Regions from separate parts of the Homo sapiens genome. Here regions 2, 3 and 4 are each linked to region 1. The links come from fine-mapping of genetic effects on gene expression. A gene starts in region 1. Each other region holds a variant in brackets. All regions are shown on one strand. Distances are from middle to middle. Region 1 holds the start of ATP6V1E1 (ATPase H+ transporting V1 subunit E1). Region 2 overlaps SLC25A18 (solute carrier family 25 member 18). Region 3 overlaps ATP6V1E1 (ATPase H+ transporting V1 subunit E1). Region 4 holds the start of SLC25A18 (solute carrier family 25 member 18).

What was found.
Region 2: its variant is fine-mapped to the expression of ATP6V1E1 in whole blood (INTERVAL, PIP 0.92).
Region 3: its variant is fine-mapped to the expression of ATP6V1E1 in whole blood (TOPMed, PIP above 0.99).
Region 4: its variant is fine-mapped to the expression of ATP6V1E1 in whole blood (TOPMed, PIP above 0.99).

What each region holds. Positions count from the first base shown.
Region 1 is chr22:17,626,012-17,633,734 of GRCh38, reverse strand. ATP6V1E1 (ATPase H+ transporting V1 subunit E1) reads left to right here and starts at 4,986. Exons shown (of 9, transcript NM_001696.4): 1 at 4,986-5,132. The coding sequence starts at 5,100. It also overlaps a transcript of BCL2L13 not described here. RefSeq lists enhancers at 4,861-5,030, 4,972-5,061, 5,142-5,291.
Region 2 is chr22:17,587,097-17,594,624 of GRCh38, reverse strand. SLC25A18 (solute carrier family 25 member 18) reads right to left here. Exons shown (of 11, transcript NM_031481.3): 8 at 7,324-7,489; 9 at 6,546-6,700; 10 at 4,960-5,035; 11 at 3,630-4,530. The coding sequence ends at 4,389. ATP6V1E1 (ATPase H+ transporting V1 subunit E1) reads left to right here. Exons shown (of 9, transcript NM_001696.4): 8 at 9-96; 9 at 1,889-2,489. The coding sequence ends at 1,951. It overlaps LOC101929372 (a long non-coding RNA gene), which reads left to right and starts at 5,433. Exons shown (of 4, transcript NR_171783.1): 1 at 5,433-6,758. The variant A/G (reference allele first, on the strand shown) is at 2,128.
Region 3 is chr22:17,595,833-17,600,832 of GRCh38, reverse strand. ATP6V1E1 (ATPase H+ transporting V1 subunit E1) reads left to right here. Exons shown (of 9, transcript NM_001696.4): 6 at 738-806; 7 at 2,545-2,639. Among named protein-coding and RNA genes, the nearest start is that of ATP6V1E1, 30 kb to the left of the region's middle. The variant C/T (reference allele first, on the strand shown) is at 2,637.
Region 4 is chr22:17,557,343-17,565,248 of GRCh38, reverse strand. It overlaps SLC25A18 (solute carrier family 25 member 18), which reads right to left and starts at 1,751. Exons shown (of 11, transcript NM_031481.3): 1 at 1,536-1,751. LOC105372850 (a long non-coding RNA gene) reads left to right here. Exons shown (of 3, transcript XR_001755420.2): 2 at 746-980; 3 at 1,136-1,552. CECR2 (CECR2 histone acetyl-lysine reader) reads right to left here. Exons shown (of 19, transcript NM_001290047.2): 19 at 7,098-7,906. RefSeq lists a silencer at 1,686-1,980. The variant C/T (reference allele first, on the strand shown) is at 4,385.

The DNA.
Region 1 (7,723 bases):
GCTACACTTTGTTTTTTCCTTTTCAAATTATTTGCTCAACATTTAAAGACAGATGATTTACATTTACTTCTAGTCTTTCGCGCTTTGTCCTCCTGAGCAAACTCCAGAGTTAGCTTATTTATCCTGCTGATTCAGTATCTAGTAAACCTGCCTGGGAGTAGGTGAGAGCACATGAACCGTCCCTTTCTGACTAACCTGACAGGAATCTAGGCCAGTGACTTTGGTGAAGCCACAAATAGGCTTATCTAGGAGGGAGTTTTTTGAAACTTGTCTGAAAATATGTTTTAAAGTGTCTCCACAAGGCCTAAGAATGTAGGAGAAAATTACATTTGGAAAACTACCAACTGGCTCATCTTTGCATGTATTCATAACAACTTTTTCCCTTCAGAGGTTATCTCTGTAAAGCTTACATTCTTTTCAGACAGGACCTGGCCTGTTCCTTGGTGAATCAGCAAAACTGAAGAAAATTGAGTTTTAAAGAGAAACTAACATGGGGGAGAAGTGGGTGCTGCAAAAGGGGATAGTAACTATACCTACGATTTGTTTTTCAAGTGAAGTCTTGAAGTAAATGTGACAAATGTTAATTGTTAATTTTGGGTAGTGGTGCATGGTATGGGAATAAATTATTCTTTGTACTTTTTTGTATTTTCTAATGTCTCAAAATAAAAATAAGTAAATCGTGGTCAGGCGCAGTGGCTCATGCCTGTAATCCTAGCACTCTGGGAGGCTGAGGCGGGTGGATCACCTGAGGCCAGGAGTTCGAGACCAACCTGGCCAACATGGTGAAACCTTGTCTCTACTAAAAATACAAAAATTAGCTGGGCATGGTGGCACATGCCTGTAGTCTCAGCTACTCGGGAGGCTGAGGCAGGAGAATTGCTTGAACCCGGGAGGCAGAGGTTGCAGTGAGCCAAGATTGCACCACTGCACTCCAGCCTGGTGACAGAGCAAGACTCCCATCTCCAAAAAAAAAAAAAAAAAAGAAGAAGAATCATAAAGATTATCACACTGTTTTCCAAAAAACAAAAGCACGGTTGATCTAGACAGTGCTACATCCATTCCAGATATTAATTTCAGAAACAATTTGACATGTAGAATTAGACTGCTGTTTCTACTCCCCAAATCCTGTCATTTGCAGAACACTGTAAAAATACAGGAGAGATTGTAATCAAAATGTGTTAATTCCACCTCAACCTGACCTAGGGATGCTAGAGGGTAGAATAGTCCTCTAGCATATTCCATACTCCTGCAATCTGTTTTTTAGGACAATGAAGAATGAGGCTATTAATGCAAAAGATGAACAAAATTAGACAAATAATCCAATCTAGTTTAGCTCAATAGTGATCAAGTTAAGGTCAATTGCATCAGTTTCTCTTGCCCTGTGTTATTGTTCTGTGACTAAATCCTTCCTTTATCCAGCATTATCAGTACTCTCAAATATATATACCAATATGTACACCAATCTGTCCTACAAGGAACACTGTGCACTAGTACAAATGGAAAAAATGGCAGCATGTATTAATAAATATATTAATAAATGGCAACGTTTATTGTCCTGTGGGTAAATCTTTCCTTTATCCAGCATTATCAGTATTCTCAAATATGTATACCAAATATGTATACCAATCTGTCATACAGTACAAGGAACATTGTACACTAGTACAAATGGGGAAAAAATGGCAGCATGTATTAACAGCCTTCAAAATATGTGTACCGGCCAGGCGCCGTGGCTCACGCCTGTAATCCCAAGACTTTGGGATGCCAAGGCGGGCAGATCACGAGGTCAGGAGTTCGAGATCAGCCTGGCCAATATGGTGAAACCCCATCTCTACTAAAAATACAAAAATTAGCTGAGTGTGGTGGCACGCGCCTATAGTCCCAGCTACACAGGAGGCTGAGGCAGAAGAATCACTTGAACCCGGGAGGTGGAAGTTGCAGTGAGCTGAGACTGCGCCACTGCACTCCAGCCTGGGCAACAATAGCGAAACTCCATCTCAAAAAAAAAAAAAAAAAAAAAAAAAAAAAAAATATATATATATATATATATATATATATATATATATACACACACACACATACATACACACACGTACCATTCCTACTAAAAGGACAAAGAGCTGAGGTGGGAGGATCCCCTGAGCCCAGGAGTTCGAGACTAGCCTGACAAACACTGTAGGACTCTGTCTCAATTTTAAAAATAAAATTGAAAAAAAGGGACAAACGGACATCATGTACTTTCTGATGTGTTGCAAAGAGGACACAATATCACACATGTAGTACTCCTGCTATAATGCGTAACCTGAATCTAATTATGAGGAAACTGTCAAAACCCAATTGAGGCTGGGCGTGGTGGCTCACACCTGTCATCCCAGCACTTTGGGATGCCAAGGCAGGCAGATCATCTGAGCTCAGGAGTTCCAAGAACAGCCTGGCCAATGTGGCAAAACCCTGTTTCTACCAAAAAGAAAAAATTAGCGGGGCGTGGTGGCGGGCGCTTGTAATCCCAGCTACTGGAGAGGCTGAGGCAGGAAAATCTCTTGAACCCAGGAGGTGGAGGTTGCAGTGAGCCGAGTTTGCACCACTGCACTCCAGCATGAGCGACACTCTTCTGTCTCAAAAAAAAAAAAAATTGAGTGATTTTCTACAACTGGCCTATATTCTTCAAAATGTCACTATCAAGAAAGATAAGTCTGAGGAAACTCTTCCATATTAAAGGAGACTAAAAAGACATGATCACTAATGCAGTAAGTGACCCTGGATCCAATCCAGGTTATAAAGGTTATAAAGTAAGGTTATAAGAAGGTTATAAAAGGTTAAAAAGTAAGGTTATTAAAAAAAGGTTATGGCTGGGCGCGGTGGCTCACGTCTGTAATCCCAGCACTTTGGGAGGTGGAGGCAGGCAGATCACCTGAGGTCGGGAGTTCAAGACCACCCTGGCCAATGTGTTGAAACCCCATCTCTACTAAAAATGCAAAAATTAGCTGGGCGTGGTGGCAGATGCCTGTAATCTCAGCTACTGGGGAGGCTGAGGCAGGAGAATCAATTGAACCCGGGAGGCGGAGGTTGTGGTGAGCCGAGATTCTGCCACTGCACTCTAGCCTGGGCAACAGAGCGAGACTCCATCTCAAAAAAAAAAAAAAAAAGAAAAGAAAAAGAAGGCCGGGTGCAGTGGCTCACACCTGTAATCCCAGCACTCTCGGAGGCCGAGGCAGGTGGATCACGAGGTCAGCAGTTCAAGACCAGCCTGGCCAACACAGTGAAACCTCATCTCTACTAAAAATACAAAAATTAGCCATGCATGGTGGCAGGCACCTGTAATCCCAGCTGCTTGGGAGGCTGAGGGAGGAGAATCACTTGATCCCGGGAGGCAGAGGTTGTAGTGAGCTGACACCATGCCGTTGCACTGCAGCCTGGGCGACAGAGTGAGACTCTGTCTCAAAAAAAAAAGAAAGGGTTATAAAGTACATTGATGGATTGATGGGACAAAGGAATTTGTTTTTTTTTTTTTTGTTTTTTTGAGACGGAGTCTCACTCTTATTGCCCAGGCTGGAGTGCAGTGGCACGATCTTGGCTCACCGCAACCTCTGCTCCTGGGTTGAAGCAATTCTCCTGCCTCAGCCTCTCCAGTGGCTGGGATTACAGGCACACACCACCACGCCTGTTAATTTTGTATTTTTAGTAGAGACTGGGGTTTCTCCATGTTGGTCAGGCTGGTCTCGAAATCCCGACCTCAGGTGATCTGCCCACCTCAGCCTCCCAAAGTGGTGGGATTACAGGCGTGAGACACCGCGCCTGGCCCGGGACAAAGGAAATTAATGTTCAGCCTAGTAAACTAAATTTCCTGAATTTGCTACATCCTCGTTCTTATGACACACTAAAATAGGAAGTGTGTGTGTGTGTGTGTGTGTGTGTGTGTATGAAAATAAAGTGTTAATGTACATGTAGCAAAATGTTAACAATTGTTGAATCTAGGTGAAGGGAGGTCAATGCAGTATTCTTACAAGTTACTATATCTCAAATTTCTTCAAGATAAAAAGCTAATAAAAATGGTGGGTAACCATAGCACAGTAAAAAGAAAAAAGTGGGTGTACCATTTGACCTCTTATTCTACTATTAGGAGTCAGTCTATCCTAAAGATAAAGGAATTTTCAAAAGTTTTTGCCTTTGGGATTTTGGGGAAAAAAACGGGCTTGAGGTAAATCCAAATAAAAACAAATGAGCCTGGGGGGATTTCTGTCCTAATATTCCTCTAAATGGGACCTGGGAAGGCTTTTGAAAAATATATAGGCTATCTCAGAAAAGTTCCAAATAAATTATGTAGCTGCTCCACCCTAATAAGGAAGTTGAGCATAGCTTCCCACTCCCTAGGTGTGGGCTTTGTATAGTGGCTTCCTTCCTAAGACTACAGTATGGAAAGGGGGTTAAAAAAGGTAACTTCAGAGTGGAGAAACCTACAAACCCTACACTTTATTCAGGTAATCAAGGTTGACATGAATAGTCAGAAATCATGTATCCCCCTTTTTTTTTTCTTTTGGTAGAGACGGGGTTCCTCTATGTTGTCCAGCCTGGTCTCGAACTTGAGGTCAAGCGATACACCCGCCTTGGTCTCCCAAAGTCTCCGGATTGCAGGCGTGAGCCACCACGCCCGGCCAACAATCATGTACCCCTAAGCCCATAACCCTGTGTAATTATGCGAAAAATTCCAATAAAGGCACATTCTCCAATATACCTAACCAGTACTCCTCAAAACAGCCCGACTAATTTCAGATAGAGGAACTCCTTATCTTTTCTTCCTCCTACCCAAGATCCCAGTTTAGGAAAAAAATACCGGTCAGGTCACGAGTCAGCGACGTAGAAGGACCCGAGGACGCGCCCACAGGCCGGGACAGGGCGGGACTTCCTGGGCGTCGCTCTCTTCCCATTGGCTGAGAAGGGTCATGAGGATGAACTGTGCAGTCACCTGGCAGGAACCGGAACCCGCGGTTATAAAGTAAAGGAACCCGAGATCTGCGCAGGGGTTCCCTTTGCCGATTTCTCTCACCTCACCTTTCAAACCTAAACTCGAGCCTACTGTTCACCGGCCTAGCATTGCTCTCGCCATGGCTCTCAGCGATGCTGACGTGCAAAAGCAGGTGAGGGGCTTGGTTGGGTCTTACGAAGCCGCGGCGGCAGTCCCGGGGAGTGGGCTGGAGCCCGCCTAGGGAAGGCCGCGGGCCTTGAGCCGCCCAGATGCCGCAGGAAGGTCCCTTGCTCCAAGTCACCAGATCCAAGAGGTCGGCCTGAGGACGGAGATTTGCCCCGCAGCTCATGTGACTTTTGCTCGGGTCTTGGGCACTGCCCGCTTGCCTGCGCGCTGCCTTCTTGAACGCCCTGGCTCTTTGCCTCCCACCTCAGCATTCCCTGTTTTCCAAGGGTATTCACTGTGCCTAGTCGGACAGAGATCTGTGCAAGGATTGAAAACAGCCTTGTGGCCAGGGGCAGTGGCTCACGCCTGTAATCCCAGTATTTTGGGAGGCCGAGGCGGCCGGATCACCTGAGGTCAGGAGTCCGAGACTAGCCTGGCCAAAATGGTGAAACCCCGGTCTCTACTAAAAATAGAAAATTAGCCGGACGTGGTGGCGCGCGCCTGTAATCCCAGCTACTCGGGAAGCTGAACCCGGAGGCGGAGGTTGCAGTTAGCCGAGATCGCGCCTTTGCACTCCAGCATGGGCGACAGGGCGAGACTCCCTCTGGAAAAAGAAAAAAAAAAAACAAACCAGCCTTGTCACTTTTTTTTTTTTTAACCCTGAGGGAAATGCTTAAGGCTATATGATAGGAAACAGTGCGGAGGGAAGAGACCTGCTTCCAACCAGTGTTTTGACAAGGTCGTTCACTTTATGAACTGTGTTTTTTTCTTTTTTTCTTTTTTTTTTTTTTGAGACGGAGTCTCACTCTGTCGCCCAGGCTGGAGTGCAAGGGCGCGATCTCGGCTCACTGCAACCTCCGCCCCGGGTTCAAGTGATTCTCCTGCCTCAGCCTCCCTAGAAGCTGGGATTACAGACTCGCGCCCCAAGCCCGGCTAATTTTTGTATTTTTTTTAGTAGAGGCAGGGTCTCACCATATTGGCCTGGCTGGTCTTGAACTCCTGACCTCAGGTGATCTTCCCACCTGGGCCTCCCAAAGTGCTGGGATTACAGGCATGAGCCAACGCGCCAGGCCTGTATGTACTGTTAATCTTCATTTTGGGGAAGTCCCCTCTATCATAATGGATTGTAATGATTGGTCTCCCACTAATGTGTGTGTTAACATTTGTGAGATACAGGCTGGGGCCGGGCATGGTGGCTCACGTCTGTAATACCAGCACTTTGGGAGGCTGAGGAGGGCGGATCACCTGAGGTCAGGAGTTCGAGACGAGCCTGGCCAGCATGGTGAAACCCCATCTCTATTAAAAATACAAAAAATTAGCCGGGCATGGTGGCGGGCGCCTGTAGTCCCAGCTACTCGGGAGGCTGAGGCAGGAGAATGGCGTGAACCCGGGAGGCCGAGCGACCCTGGGCGGCAGAGCGAGACTCCCTCTCAAAAAAATAAAAAAAAAAAGATTGTCTGGGCCTAGTGGGGTGCGCCTGTAGTCCCAGCTACTCAGGAGGCAGAGGCAGGAGAATCGCTTGAACCCGGCAGGCGGAGGTTGCAGTGAGCCAAGATTGTGCCACTGCACTCCAGCCTGGGTGACAGAGTGAGACTCCATCTCAAAAAATTTTAATATTAATAAACACAAATACACGCCAGGTGTGGTGGCTCACACCTGTAGCCCCCAGCACTTTGGGAGGCTGAGGTGGGAGGATCGCTTGATCCCAGGAGTTCAAGACCAGCCTGGGCAACATAGACCTTATCTCTAAAAAATTTTTTCTTAAAAAATAAGCCAGGCTGTCTGGGCATGGTTGCTCATGCCTGTAATCCCAGCACTTTGGAAGGCCGAGGTGGGCATATCACCTGCGGTCAGGAGTTCCAGACCAGCCTGGCCAACGTGGCAAAACCCTGTCTCTACTAAAAATACAAAATTAGTGGGGCGTGCTGGCATATGCCTGTAATCCCAACTACTAGGAGGCTGAGGCAGGAGAATTTCTTGAACCCGGGAGGTGGAGGTTATGGTGAGGCGAGATCACACCATTGCTGCCTGGGCAACAGAGCGAGACTGTCTCAAAAAAAAAAAAAAATTGCCAGGTGTGGTGGGGCACACATGTGCTCCTAGCTACTTAGGGAGGCTGATGTGGGAGAATCATTTGAGCCCAAGGGGTCGAGGCTGCAGTGAGCTATGATCATGCCACTGTGCTCCATCCTGGGTGAGAGAGCAAAAGACCCTGTCTCTAAAAATATTAAATAAATAAACAAAATTGTGTCAAATGGAAGACCGCTTTTTCTTTTCTTTCTTTTTTTTTTTTTTTTTTTTTGAGACGAAGTCTCGCTCTGTTGCCCAGGCTGGAGTGCAGTGGCATGGTCTCCGCTCACTGCAAGCTCCACCTCCTGGGTTCATGCCATTCTCCTGCCCCAGCCTCCCGAGAAGCTGGGACTTACAGGCGCCCGCCACCACGCCTGGCTAATTTTTTCTATTTTTTATTAGAGATGGGGTTTCACTGTATTAGCCAGGATGGTCTTGATCTCCTGACCTCGTAATCTGCCCACCTCGGCCTCCCAAAGTGCTGGGATTACAGGCATGAGCTACCGCGCCTGGCCAGGACCCCTTTTG
Region 2 (7,528 bases), 39 kb after region 1:
TTTTGCAGAGCTGGTGGAGTTGAGATCTATAATGGAGATCGTAAAATAAAGGTTTCCAACACCCTGGAAAGCCGGCTGGATCTCATAGCCCAGCAGGTGAGTGTGGGGGTACTTCTTGGTAGTTGGTCTGCTGTTACTTTGAAGTGGGACAGAGAACACGTGTCCATTCACTGGTATTTGGGATTTGTTGCTGTCTTTCCAGTTTTGGACATTTTCTCAAAAAGAATGAGAATTGGGCATGTAGTAGCATTTGCTGAGGTGGTAACATTTACATGAGGGTGAATTTGGGGTCAGAACAAGTGTTTTGTTGACCTAGGATTCGAATATGTACATTTTACTACATGTAAGGTGCTGACAAGTTCTTTCTCTAACAGGAGTGATGGGAACTAAAGCAAATACTTGTGTTTTTTTGTTTTGTTTTGCTTTTTTGAGATGGAGTTTCACTCTTTTTTGCGCAGGCTGGAGTGCAGTCTTGGCTCACTGCAACTTCCACCTCCCAGGTTCAAGCGATTCTCCTGCTTCAGCCTCCCGAGTAGCTGGGATTACAGGCACCTGCCACCACACCCGGCTAATTTTGTATTTTTAGTAGAGACGGGGTTTCACCATGTTGGCCAGGCTGTTATCAAATTCCTGACCTCAGGTGATCCACCCGCCTTGGCCTCCCAAAGTGCTGGGATTACAGGTGTGAGCCACCGTGCTCAGACACAAATACTTATTTAAAGGAATTATCATAAAGCTGCTGGCTTTTCAGATGTTTCCAGATTTGTACACAGGAACTCTAGGAAACAAGCCAGGAAAATTCCATTTGTTCTAAAATGCTGGGCATCTTCTAGACTTCTAGTGGGAGTCTATTGCTGTGGCTGCCAACCTAGTTATTCCCTGACCTAGATATGCAGTTTACTGTTTATGCAGATACTTGTCTTATAACTAAAGCACTTTCACCTTGATTTTTTCATATTCTGGTAACTTAAACCTCAGAACATTGTTTCCTAGTAGCCACTGTCCCATCCAGTATCATAGCCACTACTCACTTACGGATATTTAATTAAACCGAAAAATTCAGTTTCTCAGCACACAATAACCATCTGTAGCTAGGACTGCCCTGTTGGACAGCCGAGCCTTGGAAGTCCAGGGTTAAGTTCTCCTAAGGATTCATCAGTGGCTGTAGCAAGTGCTTCCAGCCTAAGCTGGCATTGGAAGTGTTCTTTGCAGCTGCTGTGGCCATAGTAGGCACTCAGTAAATGTTTGTTGAAGAAAGAGTGTAGGTGACCCAGCATATTGTGGTGAGATGATTATGATGAGTTAAGTCTGAGATAGTAGTGACTTTAGGTTTTTTTTTGTTTTGTTTTTTTTTAATGTGTCCCTTTTGTAAGCAGTCTGAACCCCAGATTTGGGATGAGTTAAGTTTCTCACCAAGGAATGTGTTACTTGCTTCAGGGAAGGAGAGGGTGGCTTTGATGTGCGTGGCTTTGTGAGTCCTTCCCAGCCACATAGAGGTTCATGGCTTTCCACCTGTGGTTAAGATGTGCAGCACTCTGGCCAGGCTTGGTGGCTCACGCCTGTAATCCCAGCACTGTGGGAGGCCGAGGCGGGTGGATCACGAGGTCAGGAGATCGAGACCATCCCGGCTAACATGGTGAAACCCCGTCTCTACTAAAAATACAAAAAAATTAGCCAGGCATGGTGGCAAGCACCTGTAGTCCCATCTACTTGGGAGGCTGAGGCAGGAGAATGGCGTGAGCTTGCAATGAGCGGAGATGCGCCACTGCACTCCAGCCTGGGCGACAGAGCGAGACTCCGTCTCAAAAAAAAAAAAAAAAAAAAGATGTGCAGCGCTCTACAACTTCTTCAGCTGACATTGCGTATTTATTACACTTTCTCTCCACAGATGATGCCAGAAGTCCGGGGAGCCTTGTTTGGTGCAAATGCCAACAGGAAGTTTTTGGACTAAGCCTTCAGGAGGTGGAGCTCGTCGTCAGCTCTCCTGCTGTGATGTGGAAGCTTCTGATATTTGAAGAAACACGAATGTCTCTGTAGCTTCCTCTTCACTGCCCCAGTATTGCTCTGTATTTATCAGCGATGCCCCTCTGTCACTCATGCCTTGCCTAATTGTTCACAATGGTGGAA[A/G]GCTTCATGTAATATGATCAGGACCCACCTCCAGTTCTTCTGAAAGTGTGACAGTGTCCAGCCGGTTCTGCAGCACTAGGGGAGGGGGCAGATGGTGGTTGCATGGGCTTCCTGGGTCTCCACTCTCCGTCTGGCCTAAAGGTGATGTATTTGGTGTTTGGCCCTGCAGTCCCCACTCTTGAGGCTTAAGGCGCATGTGGCACACCACTCCTTCCAGCAGTAGTCGCTTTACTGTTACCTGTTTAGGCCTAGAAGTTTTCCCTCATCTGTAAATGTGATTTAAAATCTAAGCCATGAATATGCTTTATTTATTAAAAGAGTTATGCGGATTTAATGTGATTTCTAGTGTAAGGCACTACAAATTTAGGTTTTGACAGAGTCAAATTCTTACTGAGGCACCTAGAAAAGAAGTATTTTCCCAATCCCCGTGGCACTTGATGGTGACAGCTGTCAGCACCTGGACCCGTTAACCCTCTGGGGGTCCCCTGGGCTGTTGCCCGTTGTTCCCAGCCCATCACCAGGAGCATTCTTTCCACCCTTGCAATCTTCCACACACCCCACATGGCTCTTCAGCGTGACGTGCACAACTTTATTGAGGAAATAGTTTTATTAGTGTTGCCCGAATGAGAAAAACCAAGTTGTTTGTTTTTTCTTTTTCTTTTTTTTTTGAGACGGAGTCTCGCTCTGTTGCCCAGGCTGGGGTGCAGTGGTGCCATCTCGGCTCACTGCAAGCTCCGCCTCCCGGGTTCGTGCCATTCTCCTGCCTCAGCTTCCGGAGTAGCCGGGACTACAGGCGCCCGCCACCACGCCTGGCTAATTTTTTGTATTTTTTGGTAGAGACGGGGTTTCACCGTGTTAGCCAGGATGGTCTCGATCTCCTGACCTCGGATCCGCCTGCCTCGGCCTCCCAAAGTGCTGGGATTACAGGCGTAAGCCACGGCGCCAGACCCAAAAAACCGAGTTATTTTGGAGCAGGTCACTGTGTGCTGGAACCAGATCCTTTCACAGAGGCCCTGTTCTTCCTTCCCTGTCCCATGTTTTATTTTTCCGTAGGTGACGACTAAGAGCTGCCCAGGGCCTTGCAGCTAGTACATGGTGGAGCTGGGACTTGAACTGAGGTCTGTCTCCAGGGCCCATACTCAAATGCAGTTCTCATAACAGAGAGTGAGGCCCCCAGGGCTGACCATGTTAGCACCATCCTCTTCCTTGTTAGCCCAGGTTTCACAGTAGATGGGACTATTGTAAACACCAGCTCCTGCAGCAGGTGCTGATTTTCTTAGGACTTGGCCCTGCTGCTGTGACATTATCTCTCCTGTAGCAGCCTTTGGGGGAGGAATCGAGGTGCGTGAGGAGGGCTCTCACAGCAAACTCAGCTCCTCAAGACGATTCACTTATGAAGGGATAGAATCAAGGCTTAAAACCCAGTGTCACTAACAAGCAGATATTTCCCTATGGCTGTGTTCCTCCACCCCCACAAGTAACAGTTTGAAGAGTGACGGGGGTCTGCTTCTATGCCCTTTTTAATGTTTGGTTTTGAAATGGACGTAGAAAAGTAGATGGTGATAGCATTCACTGCAGCCTATCTGCTGTACCCACTGATGAACAGATGAGATTTTAGCCATTCACCTTTATTTCAGAGTGTTCCTTGGTTACAGGGAGGGGTGTGCAAGACCCTGGGCTCTGGGGGAGGGGCTGAGCTGCCCAGTCAGAGCCGGCCTCAGCCCCCTCAGCCATCCAGGGATTCGAAAGGGTGCTTGGTCTCAAACTAGGTGCTGACTCTGAGGGCTTTCACGGTCCCTTGAACTTCTGATCCTCCTTTTCCTCAAAATCAGTGCTAGGACTCATAAGTTATGGAGTCCAAGATTAACAATGCTAAATCCTCAAGCTGACTGAAGAATGCCGAGTTTGACTGTGAAATAGAAATGTTAAAATACAGAAACAACCCTTCTATTGTGACTACCTGTTAAGGTCCTGCAATTAATACAACGAAAGTACCATTTTTGTTGAAAAGTAGGTGGTTAGGGGCTTCCAAAAGCCCCTGGTAGCTGTGCCCACAAAGGAAAACGAGTGTAGACACGAAGGGGAAGAAGGCTGTGCTCAACTTGTTAGAATATAGGGCTGTTTCTCCCGAGATTGAGGTAGCACTACAACGCAGAGGACCAGGCAGGCCAGAGTGGCCCCACCTGCCCTTGCCCCCTCTAGGCTAAGTGAAACAGCTAGAGAGAGGGCGGCAAGCGCAGGGACTTGACCTCCAGCTCTGTCTAGTCAAAACACTTTAAGATGCGCTCTCCAATCCCAATAAAATAGACCCCTTGAGCAATCCCAAAGAGAGGTGCTATGACCAGTGCCCGGCAGCCAGCGCCTTTCATGAAGGCAGATGGTCCCTCCTGAATCCAGAGTTTCCTGGGGAGAAAGAAGAGCCAGTGAGCTGATGGGCAGGGGCATTCTGCAAGCAGCCCTCAGTGGCAGCCTCTCCATTTGTGCACCTCTCATTTTAGAATAGTGCCTTCCACAACAAGAGCAAGAGGCCAACGGTGTGGGAGCTGTGCCTCGCCCGCTAGGTGCATGCAGGTTGGTTACTTATGCAGTTGGGTCAAGGCCTTGGAAACAGGCTTGATGTGGCTAGAATCTTTGGTGAGAGATGCTGTAGGGATGCCAGGAAGAAGAAAAAGGCTCCCAGTACATTCTGTTTTCTTTGAGAGGTGAGGGAAAGACAGACTTCAAAGAAACCCAGAGCCCAGCAATTCAAGTTGGTCTCTAAATCTGGTCTAGGCAGACACCCACGCAGAGGAACCTGTCCCAGCCACCATTTGAGGGGACACTGGCTCTCACCTGGCACAGTCGGTGATCCCACTGTACATGTCCTCGCCCAGGCCTTTCTTGAGGGTTTGGATTCGAGTTTTCAGAACTAAATCAAGTAAAAGTTAAAGTAAGTAGTGAACAGCTTACTTTCGGTGTCCTCCCCTCAACACTAAGGGGCTGGGCCCTCCTGTAGAGCCACCACATATAAAACTGACTCATAGGCCGGGCGCAGTGGCTCACGCCTGTAATCCCAGCACTTTGGGAGGCTGAGGTGGGCAGATCACAAGGTCAGGAGTTTGAGACCAGCCTGGCCAACATAGTGAAACCCCATCTCTACTAAAAATACAAAAATGAGCCGGGCGTGGCGCGTTCCTGTAGTCCCAGCTACTCATGAGGCTGGGGCAGGAGAATCGCTTGAACCAGGGAGGTGGAGCTTGCAGTGAGCCGAGATTGTACCACTGCACTCCAGCCTGGGCAACAGAGCAAGACTCCATCTCAAAAACAAAAAAAGAAAAAAAAAAACGGTCATGAGGCCAGTTCTGCCATTGTGTGATCTGTAAGTGGAGGTCTTCTTCTTTGGGCCTCAGCTATAAAATAAATGAGTCATGTTACTGTGGCTTTGTTTGGTTTTGTTGAGACAGGGTCTCGCTCTGTTGCCCAGGCTGGAGTGCAGTGGCACAATCAGCTCACTGCAGCCTCAACCATCTGGGCTCAAGTGATCTTGCCACCTCAGCCTCCCGAGTAGCTGGGACTACAGGCACGCACCACCACACCCAGCTAATGTTTTCATTTTTTTTTTTTAGAGACAGGGTCTCACTTTGTTGCCCAGGCTGGTCTCAAATTCCTGGGCTCCTGTCTCGGTCTCCCAAAGTTTCGGGATTACAGGCGTGAGCCGCCGCACCTGGCCAGGTTACTGTTGGTATAGGAAGTCTACCCGCAAGTTTAGGGAGCTGGAGGCAGCCCTAACACGGAGGGAAGCATTGTCTTCTCATGCCAGGTTTAGCTCCCACCATTAGCCGCAAATTTTATGTATTTATTTACTTTTTGAGATGAAGTCTTGTGCTGTCGCCCAGGCTGGAGTGCAGTGGTGTGGTCTTGGCTCACTGCAACCTCCACCTCCTGGGTTCAAATGATTCTCCTACCTCAGCCTCCCAAGTAGCTGGGACTACAGGCATCCGCCACCACACTCTGCTAATTTTTTTTGCATTTTTAGTAGAGACGGGGTTTCACCATGTTGGCCAGGATGGTCTGAAACTCCTGACCTCAGGTGATCCAAAAGTGCTGGGCTCCCAAAGTGCTGGGATTGCAAGCGTGAGCCACCACACCCAGCCAGCCCCAAATTTTAACACATCAGCAATAATTTATAGCTGGGGCTCACAACTCTTCTGAGGGGATGAAAAGCTAAAGCAATCAGCATCTTGAAGGCGAGGGATGTGTCAGGGATGAGAAACAGAAGGAAGGTCTCTTGGGACCCACTTTCTCCATGAGGGCCTCTAGTGAGCCTCCGCCAGCAGCCAGATTGCAACCCAGTATGGCTTCCAGGGTCAGGCTGTTTTATCTATAAGTGCAAAATTACTGTTTATCCCATAGAAAGGACACGTCTCCCAACTCCTTACCATCTAGAGGCGTCACTGCGACCGCAGCTATGGAACCTGCCACACAGCCTGACACGAAGGAATGTGCAAAGGACGCCTTACCGGCGAGCTCGTTGAACCCCAGGTTGTTAAGGTTGGCAAACAGTGGGAAGTAGATGATGGAGAAAGGAATGTCTCTGCAGAAGAGGAAGGAGAAACACTGAGCTCCGAGCTGCCCTGGGGCTGCCACCCAAGGTGAGACAATGAGCTTTGCTGTGAGCTGTGGGGCTTACAGTGAGAGGAGCCACGGGGACTCATCCCTTCTTTTGTGCCCCGTGAGCGTGGGTGAGGGACAGCAGGGGACAAAAGAGCTGTTGCCATCTGTTCCGCCGTCCCAGCTCCTTCCTCTGCCCTGCAGCACCTGCAGCCTCTTGACTGCCAGAGGCAAGTCCGAGGCGGGAAATGCGTTCTGTACAGGGGCAGGCAGGCTAAGGGAAGATGAGGGGCCTGGCCACTCATTACTATGAACTCTGCGGTCCTCTGTAGACAGGGCTTTCTTAGGTGCCTTTGGGCCACAAAACACCCAGCCTTCCTGTGGGCCTGGTCATCACTATGCAAGCGGCCTAAAACTTTAGTCTTCTAGGTACCCATTCTGTGCCACCCTGGCCAGTTCCAGACAAAACAGGAAGCATGGAAATCGTTTGCTCACCTGGGTTTGGATATTCTGGGAAGGACACAGAGGCAGATAGGGACAACCAGCTCTCTGGCCCTCGTGCCCTCCCCCGTGCACTTGTCCTAGGGAACCGGAAGAAAGGCTCACCTGAGGAGAGTGGCACCCAGGCCCCTGTAGAGCCCAGCCAGGCCCTGAGTGCGGAGCAGCTCCCAGGCAATGAGGGTGGCAGAGGGGCGCCTGTGGGTGGAAGCCGAACCAGTTGTGTAGGACCTGGAGGTGGAGGGTGCTGAGGCCGAGCCCTGATGATGGACGGCTGGAAGGGAAAGGACAGACATCAGTACCTGGTCCCCAA
Region 3 (5,000 bases), 32 kb after region 1:
GGGTCAAATTTGCTTGCAATGGCTAGCTTTAAATTCCCTTAATTTGATTTTGCCACTAAAATACTTGCTTTAGATTTAGGATTCAGACCAAACACTGTATATGTTTTAATTGTTTACTGCTGAGCTGTGAATCCTTATTTTACTTATGTTAATTACAATAATATTTGTCCTCAGCTTGGTTGATGTAATATAAGATGTCTGCATGAATTTTGTTTCTATCACCAAAGGTTTGGGTTCATTTATCTGGTTTGGGATAGATAGATCTTTCCATGGTCTTATGTGATATATGCCATCTGTTAGTGGAACTTACCAGGGGAAATTTTTCCAACCTAAATGAAAGAACTGTAGAAGCATCTTATTTTACTGTTGCTTTATTTTATTTTATTTTTATTTTTGGAGACAGAGTCTCACTCTGTCAGCCAGGCAGGAGTGCATTGACATCATCTCTGTTTACTTCAACCTCCGTCTCCTGGGTTCAAGCCATTCTCTTGCCTCAGCCTCCTGAGTAATCTGGGATTATAGGCACATACCATCATTCCAGGCTAATTTTTTGTATTTTTAGTAGAGATGGGGTTTTGCCTTGTTGCCTAGGCTGGTCTCGAACTTCTGAGCTCAGGCAATCCGCCCGCCTTGGCCTTCCAAAGTGTTAGGATTACAGACCTGAGCCACTGTGCCCGACCTGTTTCTTTATTTTATAGTTTGCATTTTCTACTGACTGTATCTACTATTTCTTCCAGGGTTTGTACCAGTTGCTGGAGCCCCGAATGATTGTTCGTTGCAGGAAACAAGATTTCCCTCTGGTAAAGGTAAAGAACTTAGGATAATTTTTTCCCTCCCTCCCTCCCCCCTCCCTTTCTTCCTTCCCCTCTCTCTTTCTTTTCCTTCCTTCCTTCCTTTTCTTTTTTTTTTGGTGGAGTCTCACTCTGTTGTCCAGGATGGAGTGCAATGGCGGGATCTCCACTCACCTGTAACCTCTGCCTGCCGGGTTCAAGCGATTCTCCTGCCTCAGCCTCCCGAGTAGACTAGCTGGAATTACAAGCGTGTGCCACCATGCCTGACTAATTTTTGTATTTTTAGTAGAGGGAGGGTTTCACCATGTTGGCCAGGCTGGTCTCGAACTCCTGACCTCAGGTGATCCACCCGCCTCGTCCTCCCAAAGTGCTGGGATTACAGGCATGAGCCACCGCGCCTGGCCGTAAAAACCCACTTCTATCTTTTATTCCAGGGATCTAGTTTCCTTTTTTTTTTTTTTTTTGAGATGGAGTTTCGCTCTCATTTCCCAGGCTGGAGTGCAATGGTGCGATCTCGGCTCACTGCAACCTCTGCCCCCCCGGGTTCAAGCAATTCTCCTGCCTCAGCCTCCCAAGTAGCTGGGATTACAGGCATGCACCACCATGCCTGGCTAATTTTTTGTATCTTTAGTAGAGACAGGGTTTCACCGTGTTGGCCAGGCTGGTCTCAAACTCCTGACCTTGTGACCTGCCTGTCTCAGCCTCCCAAAGTGTTGGGATTACAGGTGCGAGCCACCGTGCCCTGCCTTTCTTTTTTTTTTTTAATGGTGGTAAAATACACATACCATTTTAACCATACATTGTGCCATTAAGTACATTTACAATATTGTGCAGCCATCACCACCATCCATCTTCAGAACTTTTCCATTTTCCCGTACTGAAACTTTGTGCTCATTAAACACTAACTCTCCATTATTTCTCTTCTCTTCTCTTCTCCCCCATTCACCTCATATAAGTGGAAACATTCAGTATTTGTCTTTTTGTGACTGTTTCATTTCACTTAGCATAATGCCTTCAAGGTCCCTGTAGGGTGGGTCAGAATGGCCTTCCTTTGTAAGGCTGAATAATATTCCACGGTATGGATGCCCCACGTTGTGTTTATCCGTTCATCTGTCACTGGACACTTGGGTTACTCCCACCTTTTGGCTGTTGTGAATAATGCTGCTGCAAACATGGGTATACGGATATCTGTCCTGCTTTCTATCCGTTTGTCTGTATACCCAGAAGTAGAATTGCTGGATCATGTGGTAATTGTGTACTTCATTTTTTGAGGACCTATTATACTGTTACTTTGATAAGAACCATCCTTATGGGTATGGCATGGCACTGCTGTTTCTGGTGCCTGCTGTCTCCCCCTCATCTGCAACTGCCAGTTGAAGCTCATGCCAGCAGCCAAACTTCTCTTCCCTCCCTTCTCTCCTTACCTACCCCCAGCTTCTAACACTCTCAGCTGGGGGAATAATGTATCTTCCTCCTGCTGATCCATGTTTCAAATGTAATAACTGCCTCTGGTGTGTTTAATCACCTGCCAAGCCCTGTTAAATCTTGACAGAAACCATTCGCATCTCTTCCCTCCTGTGTGCAGACTGTCATTTCTCCTCAGTGGCCGTGCCGTTTTACATTCCCACCAGCGGTGCCTCTGTTCTTTTACCTGGGATAAATGGAGGTATCCTTGCTTGTATAGTCTGTTGAGTTTTTGGATACTTGCTTCATAGTTCCTAGTGACACCTCTCATTGTGTTCTATACTTCCAGGCTGCAGTGCAGAAGGCAATTCCTATGTACAAAATTGCCACCAAAAACGATGTTGATGTCCAAATTGACCAGGAGTCCTACCTGCCTGAAGA[C/T]ATGTAAGGAGTATTCCTGCTGCTAACAGCTACCTTCTCTCCCTGGGAGAGTGGCCTTTATACCAGGCCTTTTTTAAATGGTATTTTCACCATTTAAACGCACTCTTAGACACAAGGCTAGAGCTGTGGTGTATTCTACTTGCAGCCGTTCCTGTTGTTCTCGCAGTGCTCTCTTGCTCTCCCTTGTTGGCTGGCTAAATATACTCTAAAAGTCTAGTTTGGCCAGGTGCGGTGGCTCACGCCTGTAATCCCAACACTTTGGGAGGCTGAGGCAGGTGGATCACAAGGTCAAGAGATCGAGACCATCCTTACCAACATGGCCTAGGGAGCTAGACTCCCTATCATACCAGTCCACCCTCTGCTCATAGTCCAGTCCTGTCTCTACTAAAAATACAAAAATTAGCTGAGCGTGGTGGCGCACGCCTGTAGTCCCAGCTACCCAGGAGGCTGAGGCAGGAGAATTGCTTGAATCCAGGAGGTGGAGGTTGTAGCGAGCCAAGAACACGCCACTCACTGGACTCCAGTATGGCGACAGAGCAAGACTGCATCTCAGAAAAAAAAAAGTCTGGTTTATGGTCACTGCTTTCCTTCTGCGGGGAGGTGGCCCCCAGAATGAAAGCTAGGACCAGATCTCTGTATTGGATGCTGAGGTAGATACTCCCTTCTTCTAAGTAATAGTTATCAAAACAAGAATTGTGTATGCCTGGTAGTTAGGTTCCTTAGAGATAGAATTGCAAGTATGAGTGGTATTTTTATGACTGTGAGGAAATGACAGAACATTTCTGGGATCAGTGTTCCTAACAAGCTTTGTGTAGCTGGGGTAGGCAGTAGAAACTCCTGACAAGGGGAGAGCCAGTGTCATTTTCTCGATTTCACTGGCCTGTCTGAGGCCACCTAGCCACACTACTGACTAACATTGAAGAAAGTACCTTGGACACTTTTTTTTTTTTTTTAAGACAGGCAGTCTCACTCTGTCACCCAGGCTGGAGTACAGTGGCATGATCTTGGCTCACTGCAACCTCTGCCTCCCAGGTTCAAGCGATTTTCCTGCCTTAGCCTCCTGAGTAGCTGGGACTACAGGCGCCTGCCACCACGCCCAGCTAATTTTTTTGTATTTTTAGTAGAGATGGGGTTTCACTGTGTTAGCCAGGATGGTCTCGATCTCCTGACCTCGTGATCTGCCCGCTCGGCCTCCCAAAGTGCTGGGATTACAGGCGTGAGCCACCATGCCTGGTGCCTTGGACACATTTTGAAGTTAGCTGATTATCACACTTAGGAATGTAAGACCTAGATTTGAGTCCTATCTTGGCCTTTTGCTACTATGGGACCTGGAGACTGAATTCATCATATGTAAAATAGGATCATTGCTTTTTGCTTTTTTGTTTCATGCAGTGAAGAAAAAAAGATGAGATAGTACATGTGAAAATGCTCTGTAAATGGAAAAAGTATATAAACTCATAAGATATGCTGTCAGAGTTGGGTTAGATTCCTGATTCTGCCACTTACTACCTGGGTAATCTTGGACTCGTTTATTCAGTTTCATTGAGTGGTGTCGTCCATTTAGTGTTGCTATAACAGAATACCCGAGGCTGGGTAATTCATGGAGAAAAGAGGTTTATTTGGTTCATGATTCTCATGGCTGGAAAGTTCAAGATTGGACAGCTGCATCTGGTGAGGGCCTCAGGCTGCTTCCACTCATGGCAGAAGGTGGAAGGGGAGTGGGTGTGTGCATAGAGACCACATGGCGAGAGAGGAGGCCAGAGAGCCTAGGGAACCAGACTCCCTATCATACCAGCCCACCCTCTGCTCACAGTCGAGTCCTGCCGGAGCTAGAATCCAGGCCCTCGCCACAGTTCATTGCCTCGGGATCTGCCCTTGAGCCCTGAACACCTCCTACTATGCTCCACCTCCCAACACTGCCACATTGAGAATCAAATTTCACCATTAGTTTCTGAGGGAACAGACTCAAACCATAGTAGTGAGCCCTGATTCCCTTATCTGTAAATTGACGTATTAGCACTAACCTCATAGCATTTTTTATCTTATTTATTTATTTATTTATTTTTTGAGACAGAGTCTCACTCTCACCCAGGCTGGAGTGCAGTGGCACGACCTCGGCTCACTGCAAGCTCCACCTCCCAGGTTCACACCATTCTCCTGCCTTAGCCTCCCGATTAGCTGGGACTACAGGCACCCGCCACCATGCCTCGCTAATTTTTTTTGTATTTTTAGTAGAGACGGGGTTTCACCTTGTTAGCCAGGATTGTCTCAATCTCCTGATGTCGTGATCTGCCCACCTCGGCCTCTCAAAGAGCTGGGATTACAGGCGTGAGCCACCGCACCCAGCCTCTTTTTTTGTTGTTG
Region 4 (7,906 bases), 69 kb after region 1:
ATTAGCTGGGTATAGTGGCAGGCACCTGTAGTCCCAGCTACTCGGGAGGCTGAGGCAGGAGAATGGCGTGAACCCGGGGGGGCGGAGTTTACAGTGAACCGAGATTGTGCCACTGTACTCCAGCCTGGGTGACAGAGCAAGACTGTCTCAAAAACAAAACAAAACAAAACAAAACAAAAACAGAATGAGTCTGCACAGAGTGACAAATGAGGCTGCAGGCAGAAATAAGAGCATCCCGAGGGAGGGCTCCTGGGCTCAAGCGATCCACCCACCTCACCCTCCTGAGTAGCTGGGATCACAGGTGCACACCATCAACCTGGCTAATTAAAACAATTATTTTTTTGTAGAGGTGGGGCCTCATTATGTTGCCTGGGCCTGATTTTTTTTTTTTGGAGACAGAGTCTTGCTCTGTCCCCCAGGCTGGAGTGCACTGGCTCAATCTTGGCTCACTACAACGTCCATCTCCCAGGTTCAAGTGAGTTTCCTGCCTCAGCCTCCCGAGTAGCTGGGACTACCACACCTGCTACCACGCCTGGCTAATTTTTTGTATTTTTAGTATAGATGGGGTTTCACGTTAGCCAGGATGGTCTCCATCTCTTGACCTCGTGATCCGCCCGCCTTGGCCTCCCAAAGTGCTGGGATTACAGGTGTGAGCCACCGCGCCCCAGCCAACTTAAGTCCTTTCTAAAAATTTTTTTTACTTTATATAAACTGTTTGTATTCTTTTTTCTATGCTATGCCTCAGGTTTGAAGATGTTCAGCTCAGATTACCTGCATCTAAGGACCAAAATGTAAATGCCAGGGCCATTCTTCCAGGTCAGTTTGCATCAGAACCATGCAGGTTGCATCTGTTGCTAGTTACAAGAGAGAGCTAGGCCCTTCTTCAGTTTAAGGTCTTAGGCGGGATGCCAAAATCTGCATTTCCAGCAAGTTCCCAGATGATGGCCAGGCTACATTGTGAGAACATCACAATAGATCATGTGAGTGAGAATGATCAGGGCAGGCTGAGGTGGTGGGGAGAGGAACACCATCACTTCTCCCAAGCTGCAGTTTCTGCAGATCTACGCTGCCTTTGGGAAATGTTTAGCATCACACTGGACATAATTACTTGCGCTGCATTTTCTGAATTACACAGTCTTCGTCTTAGAGTGGAGCCAGGGCAAAAGAGGAATTCAAGCTGGAACAAGGAGTCCGAGAAGACGCGACTGCTGGACAGAACAAGCGATGAAGCCAGTCCCCAAACTGATGAGCCCGCAGCTCCATCCAAATTAAATGGGCTGAGAACACCAACACTCCACCCTCCCGGTACGATTGCATGGCAGGGAGGAACCAAAAATATTTTTCCTTCATCTGCTATCTCAGCTAAGCAGTACACTCTTTCTAGCACCTCACTAGAGTCCAGTTTTTCTGTATTCTGTATTCACAATACAGGTTTATTATGAACTCTGAGCAGATGAGGCTATTTTTCCCCCTTTTGGTTTCTTAGTAACTAGGCAAAGTACAAGGCTCACGGTGGGTATTTAATAAATACTTACTGACAACTTGCCTGCAAGCGAGTCGACGTTCATCTCAGTTGTTGAGGCACTCACGGGCCAGGCTTCACTCGACTCTTCTCACTGCCTACTCAGTTCCTTCTCAAAGCAAAGCCCGTGGATATATCCAAGGAACTGGCTTCATTGCTTTTAAAAATTCTGTCCAGCTTTAACTGGCTAGAATAGGGGTCCTCGTCCTTGTCATATGCTGTCCAGAATGAAGTCCAAATCCAGGATTCTGGGAGCATGTCATGCTTTCTCGAACCTGCAGGAGTCTCAAGGGCACCTGCATTGATATGCATGTCATGGCTGTAGAAGGGGGCTGGCATTGCAGCACACAATAGCCAAATCTGGGGATTTTCCAGATGCCTTCGCCTTCTTGGCTAGTATTTTTCACTGAAGGTTTTTTATAAAACTGCTTAAGGAAACTAGGGGAGTGAGCATTGCTAGCAGAAAGGGGACTAAAATAGATGCACAGAGGTCCCTTAAAAGTCCAAAGGAACACCACGAGGCCAGGGAAACATCTGCAGGGTCAATGCAGAGAAATCAACAGCAGTTGTGGGGGAGGACAGTGAAGGCAGCCACACAGCAGGCAGCTGCTGCTGGGTCACCCAGGGCTCTGCCGCGGCTCCATGAGCGCCCAGAAGGAAAGGTCCCATGATACCTCTTGCATAACAACTGCATGACATAGGCCGTTCACCTTCCAGGAAGATTCCAGGGTAAAGATCAGCCCCCAAATAGCCCGTCTGGATGGTTATTTTCTCAATTCCGTTGGTAGCACTCTCAGAGAACATAGAGTATAGCAAAATGGAGCCCACAAAGGGGCTGATTTATAAAACTTGCGTTGCCTTTCCTTCCAGTAACACGAATTGGTTTAGAGACAAGAGACATTAATCTTTAACAAGAGAAGCACCTATGGATGTCTCCAAATGTCAAAATAGAAAGTTGATCAGAACTTTTGAGACTAATCTACAGTAACAATGTATAGCTTCCTGTCTCCCTAAATCTTGCCCGAGTAGCTTTTATGCTCTTATTTTAAGAAGCTCACTGTGTAGGATTATCTGTGTAAGATATATTTACCCAGGATGCTTAACAAGCGTTAAACAGTAACAGTTCCAAAAATAGAGCCACATTTACACTGCCTACTGCACTGTTTTGAAACAGTTAACCAGTGGAAGATGCTAACTTTTGGTACATATATTTGTTGCTGGTTTTGGCCCGAAGAAGATAAATCTGGAAGCACTCTAAATGGCTAAGTTCCTTATAAAAAATAAAGGCCGGGCACAGTGGCTCACGCCTGTAATTCCTAGCACTTCGGGAGGCTGAGGCAGACAGATCACTTGAGCTCAGTTCTAGACCAGCCTGGGCAACATCGTGAGACAAAAAATTAGCTGGGTGTGGTGGGGTGCCCCTGTAGTCCCAGCTGCTTGGGAGGCTGTGGTGAGAGGACTGCTTGAGCCCGGGAGATTGAGGCTGCAGTGAGCTGAGACCATGCCACTGTACCTAGCCTGGGCAACAGAGTGAAACCCTGTCTCAAGAAAAATTAAAGCCTATCTTTTTTTTTTTTTTTCATGTTGTGAGAATTTAATAAGTCAATGAACATAAGGTGCTTAGAACCAAGCTTAGGGTATGGAAAACAGAGAATAGATGTTTCTTGTTATTCTTTTTTTTTTTTTAATTTATTTTTTTATTGATAATTCTTGGGTGTTTCTCACAGAGGGGGATTTGGCAGGGTCATGGGACAATAGTGGAGGGAAGGTCAGCAGATAAACAAGTGAACAAAGGTCTCTGGTTTTCCTAGGCAGAGGACCCTGCGGCCTTCCGCAGTGTTTGTGTCCCTGGGTACTTGAGATTAGGGAGTGGTGATGACACTTAACGAGCATGCTGCCTTCAAGCGTCTGTTTAACAAAGCACATCTTGCACCGCCCTTAATCCATTTAACCCTGAGTGGACACAGCACATGTTTCAGAGAGCACAGGGTTGGGGGTAAGGTCACCGATCAACAGGATCCCAAGGCAGAAGAATTTTTCTTAGTGCAGAACAAAATGAAAAGTCTCCCATGTCTACTTCTTTCTACACAGACACGGCAACCATCCGATTTCTCAATCTTTTCCCCACCTTTCCCGCCTTTCTATTCCACAAAACTGCCACTGTCATCATGGCCCGTTCTCAATGAGCTGTTGGGCACACCTCCCAGACGGGGTGGTGGCCGGGCAGAGGGGCTCCTCACTTCCCAGTAGGGGCGGCCGGGCAGAGGCGCCCCTCACCTCCCGGACGGGGTGGCTGGCCGGGCGGGGGGCTGACCCCCCACCTCCCTCCCGGACGGGGTGGCTGCCGGGCGGAGGGGCTCCTCACTTCTCAGACGGGGTGGTTGCCAGGCAGAGGGTCTCCTCACTTCTCAGACGGGCCGGCTGGGCAGAGACGCTCCTCACCTCCCAGACGGGGTCGCGGCCGGGCAGAGGCGCTCCTCACATCCCAGACGGGGCGGCGGGGCAGAGGCGCTCCCCACATCTCAGACGATGGGCGGCCGGGCAGAGACGCTCCTCACTTCCTAGATGGGATGGCGGCCGGGCGGAGACGCTCCTCACTTTCCAGACTGGGCAGCCAGGCAGAGGGGCTCCTCACATCCCAGACGATGGGCGGCCAGGCAGAGACGCTCCTCACTTCCCAGACGGGGTGGCAGCCGGGCAGAGGCTGCAATCTCAGCACTTTGGGAGGCCAAGGCAAGCGGCTGGGAGGTGGAGGTTGTAGCGAGCCGAGATCACGCCACTGCACTCCAGCCTGGGCACCATTGAGCACTGAGTGAACGAGACTCCGTCTGCAATCCCGGCACTTCGGGAGGCCGAGGCTGG[C/T]GGATCACTCGCGGTTAGGAGCTGGAGACCAGCCCGGCCAACACAGCGAAACCCCGTCTCCACCAAAACCAGTCAGGCGTGGCGGCGCGTGCCTGCAATCGCAGGCACTCGGCAGGCTGAGGCAGGAGAATCAGGCAGGGAGGTTGCAGTGAGCCGAGATGGCAGCAGTACAGTCCAGCTTCGGCTCCGCATGAGAGGGAGACCGTGGAAAGAGAGGGAGACCGTGAGGAGAGGGAGAGGGAGAGGGAGAGGGAGAGCTAAAGCCTATCAATAGCTAAATATGTCAAAAAACATTCTGGCCTTTGTTTGGTGAGAATTCATGTCACGGTAGGAGGAAATCTGAAAGTTAGGAATCAAAGTTTGCATGCATTTTAAGGGTGTGCTGCTGATATGCACAGGGAGTGGGTTTGCTAACGCCATCCCAGCCACTGATGCAGCTGGACTGGGCTCTAGGAAAGCTGACAGAACAGTGAAGGAAGCCAGGCCAGAGTGGTGCTCCCCCCACCCACTGGGAGAATCCATCGAGATGCACAATTTGAGTAGCATCATGTCTGATCTGGGGTTTACTAGTGATTTTTTAAGACAGGATCTCACACTCTTGCCCAGGCTGGAGTGCAGTGGTGCGATCTCTGCTCACTGCAACCTCTGCCTGCAGGGTTTAAGCAATTCTCCTGCTTCAGCTTCCTAAGTAGCTGAGATCACAAGCGTGTGCCACCATGCCCGGCTAATTTTTGTATTTTTGGTAGAGACGGTTTCACCATGCTGGCCAGGCTGATCTCAAACTCCTGACATCAAGTGAGCCACCGTGCCCAGCCTGATTTTTCACTTTAAAGTTGATTTTTGTTTTGTTTCAGAAATTACACTGAAATGCAACTACTAAACAAGAAAGTACGGTTGGCATAAAATGTTTTATCATAGAAACACTTTTCATGGGAGAATAACTGAACAGTTTTAAAATAATACCAGGATAAAAGGCTCAAAAATTTGTTAGCCAGTAACAACAGAGTATCAGTGGGGACAATCAGACACCAAACAACTGGAGGTTAAAAGGAGAGTGAACAGATCACTGCCTAGAAAGGGACAGCCCCAAGCATGGGTTTGGAAACGGGTACTAATTGTGGTGAAATTTTTATGGAATGAGGATTACTTCCACAGCCAATTACAGATGCTCCTCAGCTTCCAGTGGGGTCACCTCCGGATAAACCCATCATGAGTTGAAAATATTGTCAGCTGGAAATGCACTGAATCCACCTAACCCACCAAATATCACAGCTTAGCCTGCCTCAAGCATGCTCAGCAAACTTATGCTAGCCCACAGTTGAGCCTCCTTTTTTATTTTTATTTTTGAGACGGAGTCTTCCTGTCGCTCAGGCTGGAATGCAGTGGCGCGATCTTGGCTCACTGCAACCTCCGCATCCCAGCTTCCAGCGATTGTCCTGCCTCAGCCTCCCAAGTAGCCAGGATTACAGGCACCCGCCACCACGCCCCGCTAATTTTTGTGTTTTTAGTAGAGGCAGGCTTTTGCCATGTTGGCCAGGCTGGTCTCGAACTCCTGAGCTCATATGATCTACTTGCCTTGGCCTCCCAGAGTGCTGGGATTACAGGTGTGAGCCAGCACACCTGGCTGAGCCTCCTTTATCACACAGTGTTGAATATGTCATGGAGTTTATTGAATACCGTACAGAAGGTGAAAGAGAATTGTTGCACGAGGACTTCAAGTACAGTTTCTGCAGAATGTGTCTCATTTTCAAAAACTCCTAAGTTGAATGATCATTAAACTGGGACAGTCTGCATTTAAGGACAAAACAGGAGTTCTGGTGTCTTAAGACTGTAGCTGATTTCTAAGAATGTAGCTACTTTCTTTTTTTGGGACACAGTCTCACTCTGTCACCCAGGCTGGAATGCAGTGGTGCGATCTCGGCTCACTGCAAGCTCCGCCTCCCGGGTTCACGCCATTCTCCCGCCTCAGCCTCCCGAGTAGCTGGGGCTACAGGTGTGTGCCGCCACGCGCGGCTAATTTTTTGTATTTTTAGTAGAGACGGGGTTTCACCGTGTTAGCCAGGATGGTCTCGATCTCCTGACCTCGTGATCCGCCCGCCTCAGCCTCCCAAAGTGCTGGGATTACAGACGTGAACCACCGCGCCTGGCTGAATGAAGCTACTTTCAAACTGTTCTCCCAGTAACTGGAAATAAAACATAAATGACCTTGGCAGGTATAAGATTGCCCGCTTGCTTAGGCTGGAGCTCCCACTTCTGGCCATGTGTGTGCACAGCGGGCTCCAGGCTGGAGCTGCCCCGCTGCCCCACTGTTATACTCCTTTCCCATCCCAGGCACCCTAAAGCCTGCAAGGAGAGAAGTCGTGCACCTCAGGTGTAGTAACCTTCTGAAGGCGGACGCCTTTACCAGTGAGATGCTGACGGCCGGGCCAGCTTCGCAAGGATCGGCTGTGAGGAGCGTTTTATCCCTGACATGGTTTAGAACTGCCAGTCAGTACATGACTGTTTTGAAGTTCTCTGGAACCATATTCCTCTGTCTCATGCACAGGACCCGTGCCCCGCCTCCGTGGATTCTGGATGCATGAGAATGGACGAGGGGTGGCATTTCAGCTGGTGGCCTTGTGGCCTAGTTCACGCCTTCGTCCTGATGGAAGTCTGGGTTTGCCCTGATATGGAAATGACACATGGACAGACACACCACACACACAGAGGAGCCTTGCTATTTTAAGCATGTACTTTATACAAAATAACCAGTTCATATGGAAATAAATCTACAGACCTCCAAGGATCAAAAAGCTTTTTAAAAAGTTCTTTTAAAAAATTATCCAACACACAATATTGAACTAACTATTGAGGTAAGTGTCGCTCTCAGTGAAACAGGGAATCAGCAGACCACGACAAAATATACACAATATAAAAATAAATAGCATTCCCCTTTCCAGTACTGGCCAGAAGGTTCACATGGTTTCTGCTTTTGCAGCAGGAGCAGAGGCTCCAGACACTGTGTGCCAAGGCTGCTGGGGACTGACCGGGGCCCCAGGAGCTACGCACAAGGCAGGAGAGTGAGGTACCTGAGCCCTGGCTAGGGAAGGGAAAGGAAGGGAAGGGAAGGGAAGGGAAGGGGCTGCATGGTTTCCTGAACGGGGGTCAGCATTTCAATAACTTATGCAATATCCATACCCCTGCTCCCACCCCACCCACCCCTGTCAACAACACAAGCAAGGACAATCAACTGCTCGTCAGCCGTTCTGACGTTAGAGTTCAGTTAGTCCTCTTGTGCAGGACAAGAGGGAGAAACTAGGTAGGAAAAGGTCAAGCCGAGCCCGGAACAGTCCCTCCGCACATCTGTCTAGCACAGAGCAGGATCAACATCCAGCCTGGAGGCAAAACTTGTGTCCCAGCTTAATTTAAAAAATGAAGGTCCGGTGTGTTGGCTCACGCCTGTAATCCCAGCATGTTGGGAGGCCAAGGCGGGTGGATCACCTGAGGTCAGGAGTTTGAGACCAGCCTGGCCAACATGGTGAA